Linked DNA regions of Homo sapiens: regions 2 and 3 are each linked to region 1. Evidence: fine-mapped expression QTL. A gene starts in region 1. Each other region holds a variant in brackets. All regions are shown on one strand. Distances are between the middles of the regions. Region 1 holds the start of PLAAT3 (phospholipase A and acyltransferase 3). Region 2 holds the start of PLAAT2 (phospholipase A and acyltransferase 2). Region 3 overlaps BAD (BCL2 associated agonist of cell death).

The links. PIP is the estimated chance that this variant, and not a neighbour inherited with it, causes the effect.
Region 2: its variant is fine-mapped to the expression of PLAAT3 in monocytes after Pam3CSK4 (Quach 2016, PIP 0.95).
Region 3: its variant is fine-mapped to the expression of PLAAT3 in whole blood (INTERVAL, PIP 0.97).

The regions. Positions count from the first base shown.
Region 1 is chr11:63,609,927-63,617,926 of GRCh38, forward strand. PLAAT3 (phospholipase A and acyltransferase 3) reads right to left here and starts at 4,507. Exons shown (of 5, transcript NM_001128203.2): 1 at 4,459-4,507; 2 at 4,074-4,142. The coding sequence starts at 4,088. It overlaps LNCROPM (lncRNA regulator of PLAAT3 mediated phospholipid metabolism), which reads left to right and starts at 6,382. Exons shown (of 4, transcript NR_199012.1): 1 at 6,382-6,486. RefSeq lists enhancers at 800-1,309, 2,063-2,563 and silencers at 4,560-4,639, 4,660-4,719.
Region 2 is chr11:63,561,021-63,571,506 of GRCh38, forward strand. It overlaps PLAAT2 (phospholipase A and acyltransferase 2), which reads right to left and starts at 2,359. Exons shown (of 4, transcript NM_017878.2): 1 at 2,296-2,359. The coding sequence starts at 2,304. RefSeq lists a silencer at 3,316-3,395, a cis regulatory region at 6,165-6,692 and enhancers at 6,485-6,534, 6,545-6,634. The variant TG/T (reference allele first, on the strand shown) is at 5,735.
Region 3 is chr11:64,276,587-64,284,622 of GRCh38, forward strand. It overlaps BAD (BCL2 associated agonist of cell death), which reads right to left. Exons shown (of 4, transcript NM_032989.3): 2 at 7,596-7,790. The coding sequence starts at 7,782. It also overlaps a transcript of GPR137 not described here. Among named protein-coding and RNA genes, the nearest start is that of BAD, 4.1 kb to the right of the region's middle. RefSeq lists enhancers at 1-496, 2,023-2,524 and a silencer at 7,959-8,036. The variant T/TC (reference allele first, on the strand shown) is at 3,535.

The sequences.
Region 1 (8,000 bases):
ACCACTACCACCAAGCACTACTGGGGGTTTTCACCTGTTACCTGGAATCCTTATAAGAGCCCCATGTTACCAATCGGGAAACTGAGCTCAGAGATGGGAATTAACTTCCCTAAGGTCTCGGAGCTCCCCGAAAAGTAGCACCAGGATTCCGCAGCAGATCTGCCTGAGCTTAAAGGTGAGGTTCTTCCCACCACACCAAGTAATTCACTCCAAGGTACTGACGTTCAACAACTGTGCTCCCATGGCAAAACTGGCCTCTGCCTCACCGCACTCTCGGCCTGAAATGCCCTTTTGCCGTTCACCTGGAAGATTCCTACTCATCCCTCGAGATGGGCTCAACATGTCCACTCCTCAATGCATCCCCTGATGCCTCAGCAAAGCGAGTTGCTGCTGCCTCCACAGCCAAGCCATAGCCCTATTATTGGATGATTCATTGTTAAGCCTAGCCTGTGGGAAGAAGCGATCAATTTCCTTGCCCAGCCTGCCAGCATTCCAAGGACCAGAATTCCGTCTAATTCACCATTATCCAGCCTGGCACTGACAATGTTCTCAGCAGAGGTGTATGGTGGAGGGATGCACGGCTTCCTCCTCCAGCCCCTCTCAGCCCGTGGCTGAATAGGGATGAAACCCTGGAAGGCCTGAAGCCCCAACTGCTATTTAAGAAGGGTCCTCTTCTCTTCTTCTCTCCCCTCCCCTTTGCACCTTAACTAGTTCCACACAGATCCATCAGAAAATCAAGCAAACTCAGATCACAGAGCAGTCAATGACGGAGTCTAGACTCAGAGAACAGGGAAGGCCTATCAATTTCCTCATATTATGGAGCCTCAGTTTCACTTTGGGGTTTCATTTCCTTGGCAGCAGCTGCTCAACAAGCCACAGATTCAAGGATGGCGCAGGTGGAGGAGGGAAGGGAAAGGCTCCCCGCCCACTCATTCTAGCAAATTTGGAACACAGAGAGGAGAGAAATAATCACAGCAGGAGGCATCACAGGCTGAACTAAAGGGCTCAGGAAACTGTGGACACACCCTCTTCGATCCCCCAGGAGGCTCCTGGGGGCGGCTACAACAACTAACATAAAAGCCGCAAAAGCCCACAGTGGGGAGGCAGGATGTCCTTCCCCACTGTAGACAAATAGGAGCAAGATTGCTGTAGAGGATAGTTTTGTTTGGAGTTTTTTGTTTTATTGTGTTTTGTTTTTTTCTGCAGGCTCTCGCTCTGTCACCCAGGCTGGAGTGCACTGGCGCAATCTCGGCTCACTGCAGCCTCGACCTCCCGGGCTCAAGTGATCTACCACCTTGGCCTCTCGAAGTGCTGCAATTACAGACATGAACCACACGTCTGGCCCAAAGGGAATTTTAAAACAATAATAAAACCTATCAAAAGTCGGTCTGCCTTTTATTACTACCATGTGCTGGCCATTTTAAACAATGTCAGTGATAAAATACCACTCCCCCAAAAAATGTCTTATTCACCTAAATTCTAATTGCTGCAGTTACCATTGAGATTTAATCATATACATGTGAGCCACCAATTAGCACATTTTTATTTCTTATCCTTCTAAAACTTTTGTCTTCTACAAGTTAAATCAGAGAACACGCAGTTATCAGTTCCTGAAACACACAGACTCAGCCATAAGTTCTGTTTCAACAATCAGTTCCTAAAGGCTCAGAATAATTTGAACTCCATTTATACAGTTTATGTAGCCAATCTCTGTGGTCCTGCATTTTCCTGTGTTTAAACATAAAACAGCCTGTCTCCCAGTGCCAAAAGAAACTAAAAGAATGATGTTTGAAAGCCTGGGTGATTTTCATCATTTCTAAAGCAATGGATTAAATAAATGTCAAGGTTCACTATCACTCAGCCATTTTCTCTGATTTTTGCAGAAGAAAAACTTGGGGAATTTTGCCAAATATAATTGAAATGTATGATGGGCCGGGCGCGGTGGCTCACGCCTGTAATCCCAGCACTTTGGGAGGCCGAGGCGGGCACATCACCTGAGGTCAGGGGTTCGAGACCAACCTGACCAACATGGAGAAACCCTGTCTCTACTAAAAATACAAAATTAGCCAGGCGCGGTGGCGCATGCCTGTAATCCCAGCTACTTGGGAGGCTGAAGCAGGAGACTCGCTTGAACCCAGGAGGCGGAGGTTGCAGCGAGCCGAGATCACGCCATTGCACTCCAGCCTGGACAACAAGAGTGAAACTCCATCTCAAAAAAAAAAAGTATGATGAACTGTCTGGTGAAGATTTTGTTGTTGTTTTGTTTTTAGAGATGGGGTCTTGCTATATTACCCAGGGTAGTTTCAAACTCCTAGGCTCAAGTGATCCTCCCACCTTGGCCTCCCCAAGTGCTGGAATTACAGTAATGAATCACTGCACCCAGCCTGTCTTAGTGAAAATGTCTCTAAAAAGGAGATATTTAAGCTGTAGAACTGATTAAAGAAAAAAAGATTTAGGCAGTATTGCAATGTCTGGAATTTATTATGAAATGGGATTTTTATAAATCTCTGCCAAACTAATCCTGATGGTTAAGGCTTTTCCTTTGTCTCTCTAGTTTTATATGAAAGCAGCTTTTGAAATTAAAATTAATAAAAAGTGTTCTTCAATCAACTGGGAGCAAAGATGGACTAGTAGATATAGCTCCCCTGAATACTGACCATGAATATGCAAAGATTGATTTTGACAATGTCATGGACAACTTTTCAGAAGTTTCAAAAACAGAAGTTGTAGTGTTACTATTATTCATCTCTGATACCATCCTACATCTAAGTTTTTCCTTTTTTCAAAAATACATTAATGTGATTAAAACCTACTAATCCATTTTTTTTCCTGCTTTTGCACTCACATTTACTTTTTCATTTTTAATTTTTTTACTCTCATGATTACATATATAAGGTTTTTACTGTCATGATTACATATACGAGGTTCAATAAAAGAAAATGCTCACTGTGTTTCTTTCTGGACATTATTACTATTCATTGCATGATTATTGCTAAAAATAATGTTATCAGATAGAGAATGATATTAAAAAGTGACCACTCCAGGTGTCAAACAAACATGCCAGATACACCCTGACACCAGGCAAAACTCTTTATATGGACTGAGATAATAACAACAGTGAATTATGGTTGAGCACTCAAAATGTGTGCTAGGCATTGTTCTGGGCACTTTCTGAGTATTAAGTGATATAATCTTCACTCTGCGGCAGGGCTCGGTGGCTCACGCCTGTAATCCCAGCACTTTGCGAGACCGAGGCGGGCGGAGCACGAGGTCAGGAAGTCGAGACCATCCTGGCTAACACGGTGAAACCCCGTCTCCACTAAAAATACAAAAAATTAGCCAGGCGTAGTGGCGGGCGCCTGTACTCCCAGCTACTCGGTAGGCTGAGGCAGGAGAATCGCTTGAACCCGAGAGGCGGAGGTCGCAGTGAGCCGAGATCATGCCACTGCACTCCAGCCTGGGTGACAGAGCGAGACTCCGTCTCAAAAAATAAAAATAAAAATAAAAATAAATAAATAAAACAAAACCTTCACTCTGGGAAACAGTGGATTTGAACTTGATGAGAGTCTCACAACCAGATGCTCAACACTAGGAGGGTCCACCTCCAAATCCCATCCTCTGAATCCCTCTGCTGCGGTCCGGCCAGGCGGAAGGGGGGCAGTCGCCAAGCACAGTTAACGCTGGGACTCCGCTGGCAGGGCTGGTCATGGGATGAGTCAGCTGACATAGCCCCCAAGGCCTGTCCCGCTGTCCGGGTGTGGCTCCGGAGGGCAGCGCCAGATTTCTGCGGACAGACCTGCCCTGGCCACCTCCCTCCTGAGGGTCCCGCCTTCCGCTGGGCGCGTTTCAGGCAGGGCGCCCCCACACCGGCCCCCGGAAGGACGCGCCGAGACAACTCCCAACAGGTGCGCGCCGACCCGCAGCTGACACCGATGCCTCGCAGCTGACAGAGGTGCGGGCCCCACATCCTCGAGGCTCCTCTCTCGGAAGCAGTAATTCAGGCTCCGAGACAACGAGTCCCCACTAACAGGGGGCTCCCAGCCCCGCCCAGCCCCGCCTCGCCCCGCACTTACAATGGGCGCACGCATCTTCCCTCGCGGTGTGGACCCTCAAGGCCAGGCTCGATTTCGCTGCGTAGATGTCTGAGGCAGGGGGAGCAGGGATTTATTGTCATTAACAGGAAACTGCGTCTCCAGACCCCACGGGACTGCGGCTTCTGTTGGGCAGGGCGTGAGAGGCGCGCCTCGGACCCCAGGAACAACCACCTCGCTCCCTTTAACAACTTTCTCGCCGGGGCCCGGCGGGCGCCCAGGAGGCTGCAGGTGCCAGCGGGCGGCTCGGCAGGCTAGTCTACACCCGCCCTACCCAATTAGATCTCTTCCTCGCGGAAGGGGAGAAGCATCCCAGGCACCTCGCCCGGCCTTATCGCACCCTTCCAGGAAGACCCGATCCACCCACCTCGCGGTCTCGGAGGCAGCGCTGCAGCCCCAGCAATTGGACCGGGTCTAATGGCCGCGGTGGCCGGGCCGGCGTGAGGTCACCCGGCCCCTCCCCGCGCCGCCGGCTAATGAGAGCCTCGCAGAGCGCCCGGCCCCGGTCCCGAGCCCGGCGACTGCAGGACGCCCGCGCCCCCGGCACCGCCTCTTCCCGCCTCACCCATGCCCTGCGCGCCCAGCATCCAGGAGTCGCACACACTCGACCTCTGCACACACATCACACTGCAGGGCCATGATGGGTTTACTTTCGCCTTCACTCAAGAATGGGCTTATAGTTTAAAAACTGAAGGAGTTAAAAATATACCACCAAGGGCCGGGCGCGGTGGCTCACGCCTGTAATCTCAGCACTTTGGGAGGCCGAGGCGGGCAGATCACGAGGTCAAGAGATCGAGACCATGCTGGCTAACACGATGAAACCCCGTCTCTACTAAAAATGCAAAAAATTAGCCGGGCGTGGAGGCATGCGCCTGTAGTCCCAGCTACTCGGGAGGCTGAGGCAGGAGAATCACTTGAGCCCGGGAGGTGGGGGTTGCAGTGAGCCAAGATCGCGCCACTGCACTCTAGCCTGTGCAACAAAGCGAAACTCAGTCTCAAAATATATATATGTGTGTATATATATGTATATATATGTGTATATATATGTGTGTATATATGTGTGTATATATGTGTATATATGTGTATATATGTGTGTATATATGTGTGTATATATGTATATGTGTATATGTGTGTATATATGTGTATATATGTGTGTATATGTGTGTATATATATGTGTGTATATATGTGTGTATATATATGTGTATATATGTGTATATATGTGTATATATGTGTGTGTATATATATGTGTGTATATATGTGTATATATGTGTATATATATGTGTGTATATATGTGTGTATATATGTGTGTATATATGTGTGTATATATGTGTGTATATATATGTGTGCATATATATGTGTGTATATATATGTGTATATATGTGTGTATATGTGTGTGTGTGTGTGTGTGTGTGTATATACACACCACCATGGCATATTGGCTGTTTTGAATTAAAGGCATTTAAAACTCAGCAGGTGCAAGAAGACCCCTTTTCTGTGTCTTAAAAGCAGATGAAATTTCCATGTTGAAGGACACCTTCCTTATACTAGAAGAAAAAGCAACATCCTTATCCTCAAAGAGGAGATGTTGAGACGGAAAGAATTCTGTACAGACCTTGTTGAAATAACTTTTTTCATTTTTTACTTTTTGGGGTTTTTTGTTTTTTTTTTTTTGAGACAGTCTCACTCTGTCACCCAGGCTGGAGTGCAGTGGCTCTATCTCAGCTCACTGCAACCTCTGCCTTCCGGGCAAGCGATTCTCCTGCCTCAGCCTCCGGAGTAGTTGGGATTACAGACGTGCACCACCGCGCCCAGCTAATTTTTGTATTTTTAGTAGAGACAGGGTTTCAGCATGTTGACCATGCTGGTCACGAACTCCTGGCCCCAAATGACCCACCTGCCTCAGCCTCCGAAAGGGCTGGGATTACAGGCGTGAGCCACCACTCGGCCCATTTTTTACTTTTTAATTGACAAAAATTGCCACGTATTTGTCATGTACAACATGTTGTTTTGAAATATGTATACATTGTGGAATAACTAAATCGAGCTAATTAACATATGCATTACCTCACATACTTCTTTTGTGGTGAGAACACAAAACCTCTCCGTAATTTTCAAGAACATAGTACATTGTTATTTACTATAATCACCATGTTGTGCAATAGATCTGGTGAACTTATTCCTCTATTCCTCCTAACAGAAATTTTGTACCCTTTGACCAACATCTCCCTGACACCCCCCTGTTCCCCCCAACCGCCGTAACTGCCATTCTACTCCCTACTCGTGGGTTCCATTTTTTTAGATTCCATATATAAGTGAGATCACAAAGTATGTGTCTTTCTGTGCCTGGCTTATTTCACTGAACGTAATGTTCTCCAGGAAAATAACTGTTATCTGGTAAGCCTCCCCACATAATTTAGTTGCATCTTTTTAATTTTTATTTTTATTTAAATAGAGACAAGGTCTCAAACTCCTGGACTCAAGTGATCCTCCCTCCTTGGCCTCCCAAAGTGCTGAGATTACAGGCGTGAGCTACCGGGCCCCGCTCTTAGTTGCTTCATTACAACTTACTATTCTTTGTCCAATTCGGTGTAGAAGTAACTGACACCAACTACTTCTTTGGGTCTTCATTTCCTTATGAGGGCTCCTGTGTTGCAGGACGCAGAGGAGTAGAGAGACCAGTATAGGCCGGGCGCGGTGGCTCACGCCCGTAATCCCAGGACTTTGGGAGGCCGAGGCGGGTGGATCACGAGGTCAGGAGATCGAGACCATCCTGGCTAACACAGTGAAACCCCGTCTCTACTAAAAATACAAAAAATTAGCCGGGCGAGGTGGCGGGTGCCTGTAGTCCCAGCTACTCGGGAGGCTGAGGCAAGAGAATGGCGTGAACCCCGGGGGGCGGAGCCTGCAGTGAGCCGAGATCGCGCCACTGCACTTCAGCCTGGGCGACAGCGAGACTCTGTCTAAAAAAAAAAAAAAAGGAGAGACCAGTATAGGTGAATACAGGAGGATATTTATTTTAAGGTGCACACCAGCTCAGTGGGTTCACATCCAAAAAACTGAGCCTTGAACAAAGACCAAGCAGGATTTTTATAAGCAAATTTACAGAAGCAGCAAAGCAAAGGCAGTTAATCATATAATGACAGGTCACATAATCTATAGCATAACTGATGACATGGCATAACTTGTGGCCTTGCATAGCTGGTGGCCTTGTAGCTGCATTGAAAGTAAAAACAAGAACTGGCTAAATTTCTTTTAGCCAGATATTTTGTCCTTTTTTTTTTTTCTTTCACCTTTACTCCGGAGGTGGGGCATCTGGAGCCTATTCCTTTGGTTTTGACTTCTCAAACAGCATTATCTTATAACTGTCCTTGAAGTGAGCTTGCTAGGCAGAGGAAAACTTGCTCTTCTTTTCTTTTTAACCATTGCCTTGCCACATTCTGGGCTTTGGCTTTTACTTTTCTTGGAGTGAATGAATGCAGTACTTATTATTATTTTTAAATTTCTGCCTCACCTATGCCAGTAAAACTTGTATTAAAGAAATGTGTATGCTTTTCTCCTGTTAATCTTTTTTATTTTTTTGAGACAGGGTGATATGGTTTGGATCTGTGTCCCCACCCAAATCTGTTGTCAAATTGTAATCCCCAATGTTGGAGGTGGGGCCTAGTGGGAGGTGACTGGATCACAGGGGCGAATTTCCCCCTCAGTGCTGCTCTCTGATAGTGAGTTAATGCTTGGGAGATCTGGTTGTTTAAAAGTGTGTAGCACCTCTCCCCTTTCTCCCTTTCTCTTGCTCTGGCCATGTGAGGTGCTCACTCCCCTTTTTCCTTCTGCCATGACTGAAATGTCCTGAAGCCTCCCCCAGGCTTCCTGTACAGCCTGCGGAACCATGAACCAATTAAACCTCTTTT
Region 2 (10,486 bases), 48 kb before region 1:
TGCTCTGGTGCCAGCCAGCACCCCTCCTCCCCCTATCTCAGCTGAGCCAAGCCACAAAGGAGTTGAACTGCTGCCGAGGGTGGTGAGAGTGCCAGCCAACTCAAAGTCTGGTGGGGAGCTATAGTTAAAAGTAAAGCCTTTCATTTGAAGTAATTTGGATGGAATTGGAGATCATTATTCTAAGTGAAATAACTCAGTAATGGAAAATCAAACATCCTATGTTCTCACTCGTAAGTGGGAGCTAAGCTATGAGGACGCAAAGGCATAAGAATCATACAACGGACTCTGAAGACTGAGGGAAAAGGGTGGGAGTGGGTGAGGAATAAACGACTACACACTGGGGCTGGGTGTGGTGGCTCACGCCTATAATCCCAGCATTTCAGGAGGCCGAGATGGGTGGATTGCCTGAGGTCAGAAGTTTGAGACCAGCCTGGCCAACATGGTGAAACCCCCATCTCTACTAAAAATACTAAAATTAGCTGGGTATAGTGGCAGGTGCCTGTAATCCCACCCACTTGGGAGGCTGAGGCATGAGAATTGCTTGAACCCGGGAGGCAGGGGTTGCAGTGAGCAGAGATCGTGCCACTGCACTCCAGCCTGGGCGATAGAGTGAGACTCCATCACAAAAAAAAAAAAAAAAAAAAAAAAAAAGACTACGCATTGGGTACCGAGTACACTGCTGAGATGATAGGTACACCAAAATCTCAGACATCACCACTAAAAACTAATTTATGTAACCAAATACCACATGTTCCCCCCCAGAACCTCGAAATTTAAAAAAAAGTAAAGCCTTTGACTAGAGGGGTCAAGAGTCAACTTGACCAAATAAGGGACAATTTGAGCATCAAAAAAAAATAATAAAAATAACTGTACACAAACTGAAACACATCAAATATGTTAAAACCCACGTGTTCATAAGGATATTTTTTAAAAACACTAGGCATCTTTGGAGGATGGAAAAGAATCACCCTATTATTCCAAAAGCTGGTAAATAAAGGAAAAGATTCAAGCATTTCCTAACTGAATTGTCCTCACGGAATGCAATTTAAAACTACAACAAACCCCAAAGCTACAAACCAATACTTGTAAGGTAGCCATATATGTATGCAAAAACAGAAAAATATTTGGAAGAATACGCACCAGGTTGTACAGAGGGGAAAGGCTGTACAGATGGGAAGGATGGTCAAAGGGGACATTAGTTTTTATGCTAATAGTTTTGGTTTTTGGCTTTTGGCTTTTTTTGAGACATGATCTCATTTTGTCACCCAGGCTGGAGTGCAGTGGCACTATCACAGCTCACTGCAGGAAGCCTCAGCCTCCCCAGCTCAAGTGATCCTCCCACCTCAGCCTCCCAAGAAGCTAGGACTATAAGCACATACCATTATCCTTGGCTAATTTTAATATTTTTTGTAGGGATGGGATCTCACTATGTTGCCCAGGCTAGAGTTTCGGTTTTTCAGACAAAGTGAATGTGTTCACGTATTTCTCCTGGAATTAAATACATTCTTTCTTTTTTAAGTCGAAGCTTTAGAGTCAGAGCCTCCTAAGTTCGAATTCCCTCTCTGACTTTTGGGCAGCCCCCTCTCTATACTTACCAGTATATCATTCCTCCTATCCATGAAGTTGGCAGTAATTATGCCTACTTCATAGGATTGCTTATTAACTACCTGGTGTGGATTAAATAAAAGAAGTGTTTAGCATGGTGTCTGGACCCCTGAGCACTTGGGAAATGTGGCTGCTATTGGGTCTAAAGGAAGAAGGAAACTAAGAAGGAATTGGAGGGAAGGAGGGAAAGTAGAGGGACTGGCCCTGCCTGGAGGCGAGGGAGACAGAGCCCTTTCTGACAGCCCCCATTGCCACCCACACAGCTGGAGCCCTTTCCCTGGACCCTCCCTCCCCAGCTAATCCCTCCCACTGAGGATGATGTGACAGAGGAGGCGGCCTGTGGGGTAAACCAAGGGCTGCTCTCCCTGAGCCCACCATTCCTGCCTTCAGGAGGCTTAGCAGAGCCACTGGTAGTTTGGCCAGAGGAGGGCTTGGAAAAGCATAAACGCAAACTTTGGCCACAGTAGAACCAGACCCCATGCGGCAGCTGAGGCTGGGGAGCCTCCAGGGTCATAACCCAGCACCGTGGTTCCTTCCCACAGTGTCTGAGAGAGCCAGACCCCCAGAACTCAGCATGTGCCCATGTGCCCTCCATGCCAGAGCTGTAGACCAACAAGAATACACATAATCATCACTAATAGGGTGGTTGTTCCTCAAATCAAAGCTTTAAAACCGTTTCTGGGGACTTACCAAAGCCATCCTTCCTTCAAGATGATGTCTTGTGTGTTGCTGACTCTGTGTCCAGCCTTAAATTAGCTCTGAGTTTCACTTTCCCTGTGACCCAGCCCATATACAACTATTTCAGAACATAGGCTGGGTGCGGTGGCTCACACCTGTAATCCCAGCACTTTGAGAGGCTGAGGCGGGAGGATCACAAGGTCAGGAGATCGAGACCATCCTGACTAACACGGTGAAACCCCGTCTCTCCTAAAAAATAGAAAAAATTAGCTGGGCATGGTGGTGGGCACCTGTAGTCCCAGCTACTCCAGAGGCCGAGGCAGGAAATGGCGTCAACCCAGTAGGCAGACCTTGCAGCGAGCAGAGGTCGTGCCACTGCACTCTAGCCTGGGCGGCAGGGCGAGACTCAGTCAAAAAAAAAAAAAAAAAAAAAACAGAACATAGATCAAGGTTCATGTAAAATTTTCCCTGTCTTCAAACAGGGGCAGAGCACATATCAAGTAGGCAAGGCGGCATGAAAATCAGCCAGACAGAAGAGGAATCAGAGCTCAGGATATAGATTGAGAAGGACTTAGTGGCAGTGTGGTCAGGGGCACAGCTGACAATCACCAAGTTTCAGGTGGAACAAGCAAGATCCAGTGGTTGTGGGGGCAAGGGAGGATATAGAGACAGAGACCATGGGGGAAAATTTCAAAAAGGAGAGAGGAGCCCCAGAGAGACTGAGATTCATGCCTCCAAATTGGGAATGATGGTTGCCGGGACAGGCAAACATTTCCACCAACCTCAAACCCCATGGCCCTAGAAAAATCGTATTATTGGAGGCACATTCCTCTACCCTGGAAACAGAGTGAGCCTGCTTGGACAGCAGTATAGAAACCACTCCCCTTTCTGCCTCTCACCCACAGTTCAGAAACACTCATTCCACACCAAATGGAAACCAAAACCCAGTACTGGGTGTGTAGAGGTTGCTTCTTTGAGGCACCTGCATGCTTATCTCACCCAAGCTCCAAATAAGTATCTCTTCTGTCATCTACATATAGTTGTCCGGTCCTGAGCAAACTGGACAGGAAGGGGTGGGTGGGGCTGGGGGGAGCTGAGCATCCTCACTGTGGGGCATGGGGGCGAGGACCAATAACTTACCCTCTTCAGGCTATAAACAAACAAACAAACAAAGAGCTTTAGTGTGGGGATGCAGATGGACTGGAGCCAGAACTGGAAAACTCTTTGGGAGCCACAGCAGTTCTGCATGACCAGCTACTCCCTCAGCTCACGTGGTCATGTGGTCTTGCTCCCATGGAGACGGCCTCTCTCAGCACCTCCACTCCATTCTCCTCTGAGTTGCAGTGGGACAATCTTCAAAGTATTCCTTCTGGAGGGAGACAGTAGGGTTGGCTTGGCTAATTATCTCCTGCCCCATTGTCCAGAGACCTCTGGGCCGGTCCCACTCAGGCTTGCTGATCATCTTTTTAGGGGCTGACCTCCAGTCCAGCAATCTCAGTTCTTCCTATGCCTGCCCTCCCCTTGCAACCACATCACACCCCTGTTTCCTGGGGCAGGAGGACTTCCACGTGCTGTCTGCTGAAAGGATCTCAGGTGGGTTGGCACAATGACCAACCAGACCATGCAGGGCGGAGTTGGGGAGGAACATCACTGTACTCATGCTGGGGCTTGTGGCTTTTCACCGAATCCAAGCTGTTCAGAGTGTCAGGAAATTATGTCCAGGAGCTATAGGAAAGGAGAGTCTGCAAATCAAGGGCCAGTGGAATGAGAATTCTGCTGTCTCCCTACTGTTCATGCTGAGCAGGAAAGGTGACAAAGTTCTACTGACAGAGAACAGGGTAGGGCAGGCCACACCCAGCCTGCTGGTAAGCTCTAGGCCTACAGCCTGGAATACTTACATTTTTGTTCACATGCACGCTCTCTATGTTTGTTTAATTGTATAAAAGGCTATAAAAGGAAAGATAAGCCTCCATTCTCCCCACCTCCAGCCTCCAGCCTCCAGCAACCCAGTTCCCCTTTCTAGAGGCAATGTTATCTTTCTATGTACATGCCAGGAATATCTTGGGCTACATATAATTTTAATGGGCTTTGGCCGGGCACAGTGGCTGATGCCTGTAATCCCAGCACTTTTGGAGGCCAAGGTGGGTGAATCACTTGGGTCAGAAGTTCGAGACCAGCCTAGCCAACATGGCAAAACCCCGTCTCTACTAAAAATACAAAAATTAGCTGGGCTTGGTGGCGCACGCCTGTAGTCCAGCTGCTCGGGAAGCTGAGGCAGGAGAATCTATTGAACCTGGGATGCAGAGGTTGCAGTGAGCCAAGATCACGCCACTGCCCTCCAGCCTGGGTTACAGAGTGAGACTATGTCTCAGAAATAAATAAATAAATAAATAAAGGATTTTATTAAATCTTATATCCATATAGAAGAATAATTGCAACATAAGTATAAAACACTAGAAATAATAACAAAACAGGTACCAATAAACCTAGTTGAAGAAATAGAAAATAACCAATTTCTTAAATAAGCCCTGTGTCCCACAAAAACCTGTCCACAGATGTTCATAGCAGCCGTGGTGGTTAATTTGTTGTGTCAATCCGACAGGGCCATGGGGTGCCCAGATGCTGTGTGATGTCTGGGCATGTCTGTTGAGGTGCTTCCAGATGAGATCAGCATTTGAATTGGTGGAATGGGTGAAGCAGATGACCCTCCCTTATGTGAGTGGGGAGCATCAATCTGTTGAGGGCTTGATTAGAACAAAGCTAGAGGAATGAGAAATTCGTCCCCTTTTCGTCTGCCTCACTACTTGTGTTGAGATAGCTCACCTCATCTTCTGCCCTCATACTGGGATTTACTCTATCGGCTCCCTGGATTCCCAGGTCTTTTGACGCAGACGGAATGATACCACTGCCTTTCCTGAGTCTCCAGGGTCTCTAGCCTGCAAACAGCAGATGGTGGGACTTCTCAGCCTCTGTGATTGCTGCAGCAGCTAATTTTTTGTAAGAAATCTTGATGGGGCCGGGCATGGTGGCTCACGCCTGTAATCCCAGCACTTTGGGAGGCCGAGGCGGGCGGATCACGAGGTCAGGAGATTGAGACCATCCTGGCTAACTCGGTGAAACCCCGTCTCTACTAAAAAATACAAAAAAAAACAATTAGCTGGGCGTGGTGGTGGGCACCTGTAGTCCCACCTACTCCGGAAGCTGAGGCAGGAGAACTGCATGAACCCGGGAGGCGGGGCTTGAAGTGAGCCAAGATGGCGCCACTGCACTCCAGCAGAGGTGACAGAGCGAGACTCCATCTCAAAAAAAAAAAAAAAAGAAATCTTGATGGATAGATAACCTCCCATTGGTTCTGTTTCTCTGAAGAACCCTGACTAATACTCAGCATTATTCATAATTGCCAAAAGGTGACACCCAAGTGTTCATCAACTGACGAATAAATGACGAAATG[TG/T]GTATATTCGTATGATGTGATATTATTCAGCCATAAAAAGGAAGTACTGATACATGCTAAAATATAGAGGAAGCTTGAAAACATGATAAGTGAAAGAAGCTGGTCACAAAAGCCATATAGTATATGATTCCATTTATTTGAACTGTCAAGAATGGGAAAACACACAGAGACATAAAGCAAATTCATGATTGTAATGATTATTTAGGGATGGAAGGGCTAGGGGATTCAGGTTGTGTTTCTTTTTAGGTGATGAGAAGGTTTTAAAGTTGATTGTGGTAATAGTTTCATGACTGTGAACATGCTAAAGGGCATCGAATTATATACTTTAGTAAGTGAACTATATGGTACTGAGGCAGGATAGATAGTCAAGGAGATGACCACGTCCTTGGGACATGGCAACCACACTGTCAACAGCACAATGAGCCCTGTAACCATGTTCATTGGGACATAGCAACCGCACCAACAACACAACAAACCTCAGCACTCACATTGTAATCAAGCTCATCCAAGCAGAACTACCTTCACTGGGGACTTTCCCCTGTAGAGAGCATGTGCATTTTCACTTTGCTTGTCCTCAGAATGACCCTTTGCTCATTATAATAGTAAAAAACACACCCCTGGGTAGAGATTTAAGACGGCAATGAGACATGCAATGTATGAACAAGCATGTACAGCAACTGCTCATGTGCACCCAGAGGACCACCCAGAACATGATTACTAGGAACACACCTCTTCCCACCCACTATGAATAATCACATAAGACTCTCATAAAGGGAGTTCCCTCAGAGCCAGTCTTTGCTGACTCACTCTTGATCAGCCCACTCTGACTTATCTTTCAGAGTGTACCTTTCAGAGTGTATCTTTCAGAGTTTTATCTTTGCACTAAATTACTTTCAGCTGTTTCTTTTTACACTCAGCTTTCAGAGTGTTCTTTCTCTTTTGCAATACATTGCTTTCTGTTGTTCCTCTATGGTTGTGTCTCTTGTTAAAATTATTTTAACCAAGAAGACAAGAACAGAGGTCTCACAATCACCGTCAACAGTATGTAAATTATACCTCAGTGAAGCTATTACCAAAAAAATTAACCCTGTGTTCCTCTTCCTCCTAATGCAGTTGTAGCCACTCTCCTGAATTTTGTCTCTATTGTCCTATTGATTTTTAAATTTTTTTATAAACACATCCCTTAATAATATATAAATGTAATCCTTAACAATATACATTTAGTTTATAATTTTTAAAGTTTGTAAAAGTAGAATCAAACATCAAGCATTCCATAACAATATTTTTGGTTCAATATTAGGTTTCATACCCATGTTGATTGGCCATAGCTATTCATTCATTTGCATGGTACTCCCATGTGGCAAATGGGAATGTGCCACAGTTTACTTATCCTGACTCCTGTCAACAATCACTGGAGGTTGTATATAGTCCATTCTCACACTGCTATGAAGAAATACCCAAGACTGGGTAATTTATAAAGGAAAGAGGTTTAATTGACCCACACTTCCACATTGCTGGGGGGCCTCAGGAAACTTACAGTCATGACAGAAGGCAAAGGAGAAGCAGGCACCTTCTTCACAGGGCAGCAGGATGGAGTGAGTGCAAGCAGGGGAAATGCCAGATTCTTATAAAACCACCAGATTGGCCGGGTGCGGTGGCTCACGCCTGTAATCCCAGCACTTTGGGAGGCCGAGGCAGGCGGATCACGAGGTCAAGAGATCAAGACCATCCTGACCCACATAGTGAAACCCCATCTCTACTAAAAATACAAAAATTAGCTGGGTTTGGTGGTGCAAGTCTGTAGTCCCAGCTACTCAGGAGGCTGAGTCATCAGAATCGCTTGAACCCGGGAGGCGGAGGTTGCAGTGAGCCAAGATCGCACCACTGCACTCTAGCCTGGTGACAGGGCAAGACTCCATCTCAAAAATAAATAAATAAATAAATAAAAATAAGATCTCACAAGATTCACGTACCATCATTAGAACAGCATGGGGGAACCACCCCCACGATCCCATTACCTCCACCTGGTCCTGCCTTTGACACGTGGGAATTACAATTCAAGATGAGATTTTGGGTGGGGACCACCGCCAAACCATATTAGGGGTGTTCCCAGTGTGTCACCATTACTGAACAGGTTACTGTTAATACTCTCCATAGTATGTTTTGATAAACAGATGTTCTTATCTAATGTAATGAAATTTATCTCTTTGTACCTTACTTTTTGTCTTTATTTTTTGTGCTTATGAACTACAGTAAGGTCATAAAGATGTTCTCCTGTATTTGCTTCTAAAAATTGACATTTGGCCAGGCACGGTGGCTCACACCTGTAATCCCAGCACTTTGGGAGGCTGAGGTGGGTGGATCACCTGAGGTCAGGAGTTCAAGACCAGCCTGGCCAACATGGTGAAACCCATCTCTACTAAAAAATACAAAAATTAGCCAGGCGTGGTGGTGCACGCCTGTAATCCCAGCTACTCAGGAGGCTGAGACACAAGAATTGCTTGAACCCAGGGGGCAGAGGTTGCAGTGAGCCAAGATCATGCCACTGCACTCCAGCCTGGGCAACAGAGCGAGACTCTGTCTCAAAAATAAAATAAAAATAAAAATTGACATCTGTCCTTCACATGTAAGTCTGAAATTCTCCCCAAACTGACTTTTTCTGTGCAGTGCAAAGTCCATGTGGTTATATGTGAATACCATTTACTAGTTAGGGATCAACAAACTATAGCCTACAGGCAAATGCAGGCCTTCATCTGTTTTTGTTTTGTTTGTAATAGACACTGGGTGTCACTATGTTGCCCAGTTCAAATAATCCTCCTGCCTCTGCCTCCCAAAGTGCTGGGATTATAGGTGTGAACCACCATGCCTGGTCTCCTTTGCCCGTTTTTGTACAGCCCAGTAGCTAATAATGGTTTCTGCATTTTAAATGGCTGAGAAAAACAAAAAGAAAGCTAATAACTCATGACCCATGAAAATTATATGAAATTTAAATCTCAATGCACATAAAGTTTTATTAGAACATATCCATGATCATTTGTTCACGTACAGTATTGTCTATAGCTGCTCTTACAATACCACAGCAGAGGTGACTAACTACAACAGACACTGTGAACACCACGTAAGGCTGTCTAGCCCTTACCAAAAAAGTTTGCCAATCCCTCAATAGTTCATCCTTTCCCCCCATGATCTGCAGTACTGTCTCTGTTGTAAATTAGAGTTTCATTTATTTGTGGGTCTGTTTTGGAAATTTGGCTCAATCCATTGGCCAATTTAACTATCTCTACACCAAAAATACACTATCTTGATCACAATAATAATTTATAATAAGCCTTAATAATAACACAAGTCTCCCTGCCTGATGTTCCTTCTTTGTTAATGAAATAGCTAACCCTGCCTCTTTACTTTTCCAAATACATTTCAGAATCTGGCTTCCAATTCCAGGAAAGACCTTGTTGGGATTTGGTTTGGAATCACATTGAATCCATAGGTGAGTTTTGAAAGAAACTGACATACTTATGCCATTGAGGCTTCCTATCCATTAATGATATATCTCTCTCCATTTATGAGGTCTTCTTTAATGTCCTTCAATATTTTCTCCATAGAGGTCTCACTCATTTGTTACCATAATCCTTGGTAAAACTCACCTACACGACCATCCAGGCACACCATTTCTTTGTAGAAAAAGTGTTAACTACTGATTTATCCTTTAATGAGCAAAGGACTGCTTAGATTTTTAAATATTTTCTTGGTTCAATTTTGATGACATTTTTCTTGGAATATATCAATTCCATCAAAATTTTCCAATTTTTTATAATTATTTATCAATATTTGTTTTTGCTGGTTTAATCTCTGCAGCATCTATAGTTGTGGTCTCTTTTTTACTCCTAAATCATTTGCTGTGCCTTCTCTCTTTTATATGCTTGTTTTTCTTCATTTATTTTTGCTCATATCTTTGTATTGTCTTCCCCTTTTTCTGTCTTCTTAAATTGGATAATTAACTCCTTAACTTGCACCTCTCCTTCCTTTCTTTCTTTTTCTCTTCTTCTTTTGCTTTCTTTCTCTTTTTCTTTTCTTTTCTCCAGGCTAGTATTGAATTCCTAGCCTCAAGCGATCCTCCCACCTCAGCCTTGCAAAGTGCTGGGATTACAGGCATAAGCCACCATGCCAAGTCACCTTTTCCTTTCTTAATGTAAGGATTTATGCTACAAAATTTTTTCTAAGCACCCCTTTAGCTGCATGGTCCAAATATTGGTATCTAGTATTTTTGTTATCATTCAGCTCTAAATATTATCTAACTCCCATTAGTTTTCTTTTTTTGACTCATAATGTATCTAGCAGTATATTCTAAAATTCCTGAAAGTATAGGGTTTTTCTGGTTATCTCTCGCTATTGATTCCTGAATTAATTGCTTTACGGTTAAAGAAGATTATTTCTACGTTACTAATCTAAAATTTGTTGGCTTGCTTTAAGACTCTCATAAATATTCCATGTGTGCAGTTGAAAAGAATCTGTATTTCACAATTATATTATATATGGTCATTAAGTAAGCTTGTTGGTAAATTTTCTATGTCTTTATAGACTTCTATGTTTCCTTCATTCATCAGTTCCTTAGAAAGGTGTATTTAGATCTCCCACTATGATGATGTTTGTCCTCTCCAAACTTCATGTTGAAACTTAATCCCAAATGTGGCAGTATTGAAAGATGGGTCTTTTGGCAGGGTGTGGCGGCTCATGCCTGTAATCCCAACACT
Region 3 (8,036 bases), 670 kb after region 1:
AAAGTGCTGGGATTACAGGCGTGAGCCACGGTGCCCAGCCCTAAATTGAATTTTTAAAAAGTGTTCTATTTACAGGGAAAAACCCTGGGGGAGTGTCTGTGAATTCCCTGGGGGAAGGAGAGGGCTGGGGCAGGGCCTGGGCCAGACTCTCCCTTCTCTGGGGAAGGGAAGGGGTGTGGCTCCTCCTTGGGTGTGAACGTGGGTGGGTGCCCAGGCCTGCCCACTCTTGCCATCCGCCTAGAGCCTGGCCCGGAGCTGGGTGTGGAAGTGGAGGGTAGTGGCTGTGGCTAGAAGTGCCCCAGGCCCCAGCATGGCACCTCTAGCTTTACATTCTCTGCGTGTTGGGCTTCTGAGTCAGCGGCTGGGGCGGACATCCCTGCTGATGCTTCCGCGAGCATCCCTGCACTGGGATTTTCAGAGTCCTCAGATTCCCAAGAAGGAGAATACGAAGTTCTCCCTGTTTTATAGATGAGGAAACAGAGGCACACTTAATTACAAGACACTTGCACACTGAATTGCACACTTAATTAAAACAGTGGTGTTCCAGACCGTTTGGAGCAGTGAAGCTCTGCCATCAGGCAAGGGCTGGGTTTGGATCCTGCCCCTACCACATGCCGACCACACACAATCTGCTGCCGGGGGAGGCTGACGTCAGTGGCCAGCACAGTGGCCAGTGCTGCCACCCCACCCTGGGCAGACACTCGCAGCCTGTCCGCCTCCGGCACCTGTAGGCCTCAGCCTTGACTATAGCCTTCCGGTACAGAAGCCCCTTCAGGCCTGCAGAGAACACCCCCAACCTTGCTCAGAGCTCATAAAATCAGAAAGTACTCTAAAGTTGGCAAATGTTTCCTTTTTGTTTTTAAAAAACAGCGACAGGGTCTCTCTCTGTCACCCAGACTGGAGTGGGGTGGCACGATCTCAGCTTACTGCAGCCTCAAAATCCTAGGCGCAATCGATCTTCCCACCTCAGCCTCCTGAGTAGCTTGGACTACAGGCATCACCATGCCCGGCTAATTTTTTAATTTAAAAAATTTTTAGAGAAGTGTCTTGCCATCTTGCCCAGGCTGGTCTCGAACTCCTGAGCTCAAGTGATCCTCCTGCCTTGGCCTCCCAGAGTGCTGGGATTACAGGTATGAAAGGCTGGCTGGCAAATGTTTGTTCACTTTCTTTTCCCTTTTCCTAAGTTAGCTGAAAATGTTTTCTATAAAGGGGGTTCAGTGGGCCACGTGGTCTCTGTGACAACCACTCACCTTTGTGGCCAGAGCTGAAAGGAAACCATAATCAATGTGTAAATGAATACACTGCACCTTGCTGTGTTCCACTAACACTTTCTTTAGGGACCTTGAAATTTGAATTTCATAGAATGTTCACGTTACAAAATATAGTTCTTTGGATTTTTGTCCATAACTTAAAAATATAGGCCCAATGTGGTGGCTCATGCCTGTAATCCCAACACTTTGGGAGGCCAAGGCAAAAGGACTGCTTGAGGCCAGGAGTTCGAGACCAGCCTGAGCAACACAGAAAGACCCTTGTCTCTACAAAAATTAAAATAAAAAAATTAGCCAGGCATGGTGGCGTGCGCCTGTAGTCCCAGCTACTTAGGAAGCTGAGGTGGGAGGATGGCTGGAGCCCAGAAATTTGAGGCTTTATAAATATATAAAGCCAAGAATGTACATAAAGGCAAGAAAATCACTTGAACCTGGGAGGTAGAGGTTGCTGCGAGGCGAGATTGCACCACTGCACTCCAGCCTGGGCGACAGAGTGAGGCTCCATCTTGGAAAAAAAAATTATATATATATATTTATATATAAATATATATATACATAAATAATAACAATGGCAGTTCTAATAATAAGAGCCGCAAACACTTAGCCCCTCCTCTGCGCCAGGCACTGTTTCCAAGCACTTTTCCTATATTAACTCATCAGGTCCTCGCCACAGCCCTGCGAGGTGGGACTAGTTCTATTCCCGTTTACAGATGAGGAAACTCAGGCAGATGGAGTTAATTAACCTGCTCAAGCTCAACCTGCTAGGAAGGGTAGAGCCACGTTTGAACCCTGCAGTCTGGCCCAGGGGCTAGCACTGGGCTGCTTCTTTCTGCCTCTCCACTGTCCACACCTGTTTCAGACACTGGGCTGTGTGGGCTGTCACAGCACAAGGTGGCTGCAGTCCCTGCCCTGGGGACACCTCAGCCATCCAGCAGGGGGGCCTGGTGGCAGGGACTATGAGGAGTGACCGAACCAAGTGTGAGTTGCTCTGCGCAGGTAGAGAGGGCAGAGGCCCCGTGGCTCTGGCGGGGCACTGGCACTTGCTGATCTTTTCTGGGAAACCACTTGCTTTTGGAGACACTGAAAACTAAATCAAAAGGTTAAGAAATCCAGCTCTGTCCTCACCTGGCAGCTGTCTTCTCCCGCAGCCCTCTTTCCTACGGGTCTGCAGCTGGGGCTGGGGGGAGGTGTCGTCCCTGGCCTGTGCAGAATGTTACTCCTGTCCTCTGCCACTCCACCAGCACCCTGTCTCCTTTCTGTACCTTGCTACTCCTTCTACCATGATCTTGTCCCACTCTCCCCTCAGACTCATTCCCAGGGACATAACCTAGGCCTTGTCACCATCAAATAACTCCATCCCAAGCTTCCCACCAGCTGACCCAACCTGTGTGGATCATGCCCCCGGGACCCCAACTCCAACGATGCTGCGGCTTCCCAGGGCTTGCTCCCTTCCCTGAAGCTCAGCCAGCTTGGACCCCACATCTACCATTCCTTCCTTTGCACACACCTGAAGCCCCTACCCCTAACTGGACTGAGACAAGCACAACTCTGGTTCAGACTCCAAGTCCCTGCCAGCTCCCACTAGCACCCTGCTAAAAATCCCACCAGATGCTTAAAAGCCACCTCTAGCGGCCAGACGCGGTGGCTCATGCCTGTAATCCCAGCATTTTGGGAGGCTGAGGCGGGTGGATCACGAGGTCAGGAATTCGAGACCAGCCTGGCCAACATGGTGAAACCCCCGTCTCCACTAAAAACACAAAAATTAGCTGGGCATGGTGCATGCCTGTAATCCCAGCTACTGGGGAGGCTCAGGCAGGAGAATGGCATGAACCCAGGAGGTGGAAGTTGCAGTGAGCCGAGATCGTGCCACTGCACTCCAGCCTGGGTGACAGAGTAAGACTCTATCTCAAAAAAAAAAAAAAAAAAAAAATCCCCCTCTATCCCACCCTCTAGGGTAGCCTCCAGATCCTCCCTCACCCTTCAGTGTTTCTTCTCCATTAAAAGCAACTTCATCCTACCGGGTGCTCAAGCCAGATTCCTTGGTGTTGGCTGGGCACTGTGGCTCATGCCTGTAATCCCAGCACTTTGTGAGGCCAAGGTGGGAGGATCACTTGGGGCCAGGAGCTCAAGACCAGCCTGGCCAACATAGCAAGACCTTGTCTCTAAAATTAATAATAATTTGGCCAGGCGCGGTGGCTCACGCCTGTAATCCCAGCACTTTGGGAGGCCAAGGCGGGCGGATCACAAGGTCAGGAGATCGAGACCA[T/TC]CCTGGCTAACATGGTGAAACCCCATCTCTACTAAAAACACACAAAAAAATTAGCTGGGCATGGTGGCGGGAGGCTGTAGTCCGAGCTACTCTGGAGGCTGAGGCAGGAGAATGGCGTGAACCCGGGAGGCAGAGCTTGCAGTGAGCTGAGATGGTGCCACTGCACTCCAGCCTGGGCGACAGAGCAAGACTCCATGTCAAAAATAAAATAAAATAATAATAATAATAATAATAATAATTTTTTTTTTTGAGACGGAGTCTTGCTCTGTCGCCCAGGCTGGAGTGCAGTGGCACCATCTCGGCTCACTGCAAGCTCTGCCTCCCGGGTTCATGCCATTCTCCTGCCTCAGCCTCCCGAGTAGCTGGGACTATAGGCACCCACCACCACGCCCGGCTAATTTTTTGTATTTTTAGTAGAGACGGGGTTTCACCGTGTTAGCCAGGATGGTCTTGATCTCCTGACCTCGTGATCCGCCCGCCTCGGCCTCCCAAAGTGCTGGGATTACAGGCGTGAGCCACCGCGCCTGGCCTAATTTATTTTATTTTTATTTATTTTTTGTTTTTTGAGACGGACTCTTGCTCTGTCACCCAGGCTGGAGTGCAGTGGCAGGATTTCAGCTCACTGCGACCTCCACCTCCTGGGTTCAAGTGATTCTCCTGCCTCAGCCTCTCAGGTAGCTGGGATTACAGGCGCCCACCACCACATCCAGCTAATTTGTGTATTTGTAGTAGAGACAGGATTTCACCAAGTTGGCCAGGCTGTTCTTGAACTCCTGACCTCAAGTGATCTGCCTGCCTCAGCCTCCCGATGTGCTGGGATTACAGGTGTGAGCCACCACGCCCGGCCAATAATAATTTTTTTTTTGAGACGGAATCTTGCTCTGTCACCCAGGCTGGAGTGCAGTGGTGCAATCTCTGCTCACTGCAAGCTCCGCCTCCCGGGCTCACGCCATTCTCCTGCCTCAGCCTCCAGAGTAGCTGGGACTACAGGCGCCCACCACCACGCCCAGAGAATTTTTTGTATTTTTAGTGGAGACGGGGTTCACCGTGTTAGCCAGAATGGTCTCTATCTCCTGACCTCATGATCTGCCCACCTCGAACTACCAAAGTGCTGGGATTATAGGCGTGAGCCACCGCGCCCAGCCTAATAGTTTTTTTAAAATTCCTTGGCATCATCCTGACTCCTCTCTTTCCCTCGCACCCCACATCCAGTCCATCAGCAGATCCTGCCAGTTCTGCTTTAAAAATAAATCCAGGGATCAGCTACTTCTCACCACCTCCCTGGTGACTCTCTGAATGTCTAAATCTGACCATGCTGCCTCTGCTCAAATCCTTTCCAGGTTTTTACTCAAAGGCAATGCCAGAGTCCTTAGAATGACCTTCAACTTTAGGTCTCCAAATACCCTTTCCTAAACCCCCTCCCCTAGGCCCACCCTAGCCAGGAGCAGGTGTTGCCCTCGAGGCCTTACCATCTGCCCTTCTCTCTGCCTGGAACTCTCTTCCCATCATCCCTGTGGCCTTGGCTCCAGTGGTGCTTCTCACCAAGGTGAGTGCTGACCACCTCTGCTACCATCACTCCCCCCGCCCCTGTGACTCCGGATTCTCTTAACTCTTTTTTTTGAGATGAGTCTCACTCTGTCGCCAGGCTGGAGTGCAGTGGCACGATCTTGGCTCACTGCAACCTCCGCCTCCCGGGTTCAAGCGATTCTCCTGCCTCAGCCTCCCGAGTAGCTGGGACTATAGGTGCGCGCCACCATGCCCAGCTAATTTTTGTATTTTTGGTAGAGATGGGGTTTCACCATGTTGGCCAGGATGGTCTCCATCTCTTCACCTTGTGATACGCCCACCTAGGCCTCCCAAAGTGTTGGAATTACAGGCGTGAGCCACCGCGCCCGGCCTCTCTTAACTCTTTTACATGCTGCCCCCATACAAATCTTCTCACGCATGATAGGATGCTTTTGTGCTTGTTTGCTCATGGCCCCACCAGCTCACTAGAAGGTAAGCTCCACAAGGGCAAGGATTCCTGACGCTTGGGTTCACCGAGGCCCCCTAGCAACTGGAACAGCCTGTGTCACACGGTGAGCACTCACTGTGTGGCGCGAGTGAATGCTGAGTGTGTGTGGGGGGCAGAGAGCAGGGGAAGTTTGTGAGCAGAAAAATGGCCAAGTGCAAGCTCAGGAAGTTAAAGAAAGCTGTGGAGGCTGAGCATGGTGGCTCACGCCAGTAATCTCAACAGTCTGGGAGGCCAAGGTGAGAGGATTGCTTGGGCCCAGGAATTCGAGACAAGACTGGGCAACAAAGCAAGACCCCACCTCTACAAAAAATAAAAAATGAGCTGGTGTGGTGGCATGCACCTGTGGTCCCAGCTGTTCTGGAGGCTGAGGCAGGAGGATCGTTTGAGCCCAGGAGTTTGAGGCCTGCCTGGGCAACAAAAGGAGACCCCGCCCCTGCCCTCATCTCATGAAAATGTGAAAAATGCTGGGCATGGTGGCTCACGCCTGTAATCCCAACACTGTTGGGAGGCTGAGGCGGGTGGATTACGAGGTCAGGAAATGGAGACCACCCTGGCTAACACGGTGAAACCCCATCTCTAATAAAAATACAAGAAATTAGCCCGGCATGGTGACACGCGCCTGTAGTCCCAGCTACTCTGGAGGCTGAGGCAGGAGAACTGCTTGAACCCAGGAGGCAGAGGTTGCAGTGAGCCGAGATTGCACCACTGCACCCCAGCCTGGGCAGCAGAGTGAGACTCCGTCTCAGGAAAAAAAAAAAAAAAAAAAGAAAAAGTAAAAAATAAATTAACTGGGTGTGGTCCACACACCTGTATTCCCAGTTACGTGGGAGGATCACTTAAGCCCAGAAGTTCCGGGCTGCAGTGAGCTGAGATCGCACCTCTGTACTCCCTCCTGGGTGATAGAGCGAGACCCTGTCTCAAAACAAAACAAAACAAACAGAAAAAAAGAAAGCAAGCTATGGGGTCCAATCTGAGAGAATCGAGTGTGGGTGTTTATCCGTAAGAGAGCGAGGGGAAAGAGGCCTCTTAAGCCTTCTTAATCCTGAAAATGGGGAGGAGGTCTTTTAAGCTGCAGTGCCAGAGTGACATGACCTAGTTTTCTATTTTTAGAGATGGGGTCTGGCTATGTTGCCCAGGCTGGTCTTGAATTCCTGGGCTCAAGCCAGCCTCCTGAGTTGCTGGGACTACAGACATGTGCCACCCCACCCAGCTTGACCTGGTTTTTGTGTTCAGAAGATATCTGTTGTTGTTCCAGGTGCCAAGGCCAGTGCTGGGCACAGGGGTGCTAGAGCCTACTGAGAAATGGACATAGAACCCCAGTGTCCATCCTTCCATCTTGGAGCCTGTGCTTCTCACCCCACACAGCCCTGCTGTCTGGGAGGACTGTCTGCCCCTTGAGGTCATCTGCCCCTGGCCACTGTGCCAGGACAGTCCTGCTGTGGGTACGAGCCACAGGGCAAGAAAGAACACATCTGGGAGCTGGAAGGCCTAATCCCAGGGAAAGCATGTAGCCTGGGGCAGGGCACCAAGGAGGCTTCCAGCCCCCACATTCTAAGGAAAGAAACACCAGGAAGGTGTGGCCTTAGGCAGGCCCCTTTTCCTTTTCGGATCACTGCCTGCCTGTCACTGATTTCTGTCCTAACCCCACACTAATAGCTGCTATATATATATATATGTATTTTAAGAGCTGGAGTCTCCCTAAGTCACTCAGGCTGGCCTTGAACTTCTGGGCTCAAGCGATCCTCCTGCCTTGGCCTCCCAAAGTGCTGAGATTACAGGTGTGAGCCACCACGCCCGGCAGCAACCATTTTTTAGCTTTAATGTGCACCAGCTCTGTAATCAAGTGCATCCTATATGTTCCTGCTAATTAACTCAACAGTCCTACAATGGTGGTTATTAATTGCTGTTTTACGAAAGAGGAAACTGGGGCTCTGAGAGTTTGGGGACCGACCCAAAGCATTCAGTGCCTGTGGATGCAACTGGGATGCAGGGAGCCAGTGGGCTGGGGGTGAGGTGTCCCGGCAGGTGGAGGTGGTGGGGTACTTACCTCCATGATGGCTGCTGCTGGTTGGCTGCTCCTGCTGGTGACTGGCGTCCCACAGGAGGCCTGGGGCCTGGCGATGATGCTTGCCGGAGCCTGAGGGCCCGTCCCCTGCGGGGCTGGGGCCCAGGCCCCTCTCTGCAGAGCTGGAGTCTTCCTGCTCACTCGGCTCAAACTCTGGGATCTGGAACATGCTCTGGGCTGTGAGGACAAGATGTTACGTAGTCAAGGCACAGCTGGGGCCAACGGTGGCCCTGGAAGGCAGAGGCAGGTACCCCTGGCTTCCTCTCCCACCGTAGCGCCCCCAGGCCCGCCAGGCCTCCTGGGCCCTCATCTGTCTGCCGGGTCTGGCCTGGCAGGGAGCTGAGGCTGTCGGCTCAGGACCTCAGTCTCCCCTCAGAACCCCGGTGGACCCAGGCCCCGCCCCGCCCGTGGTGACGGCGCACA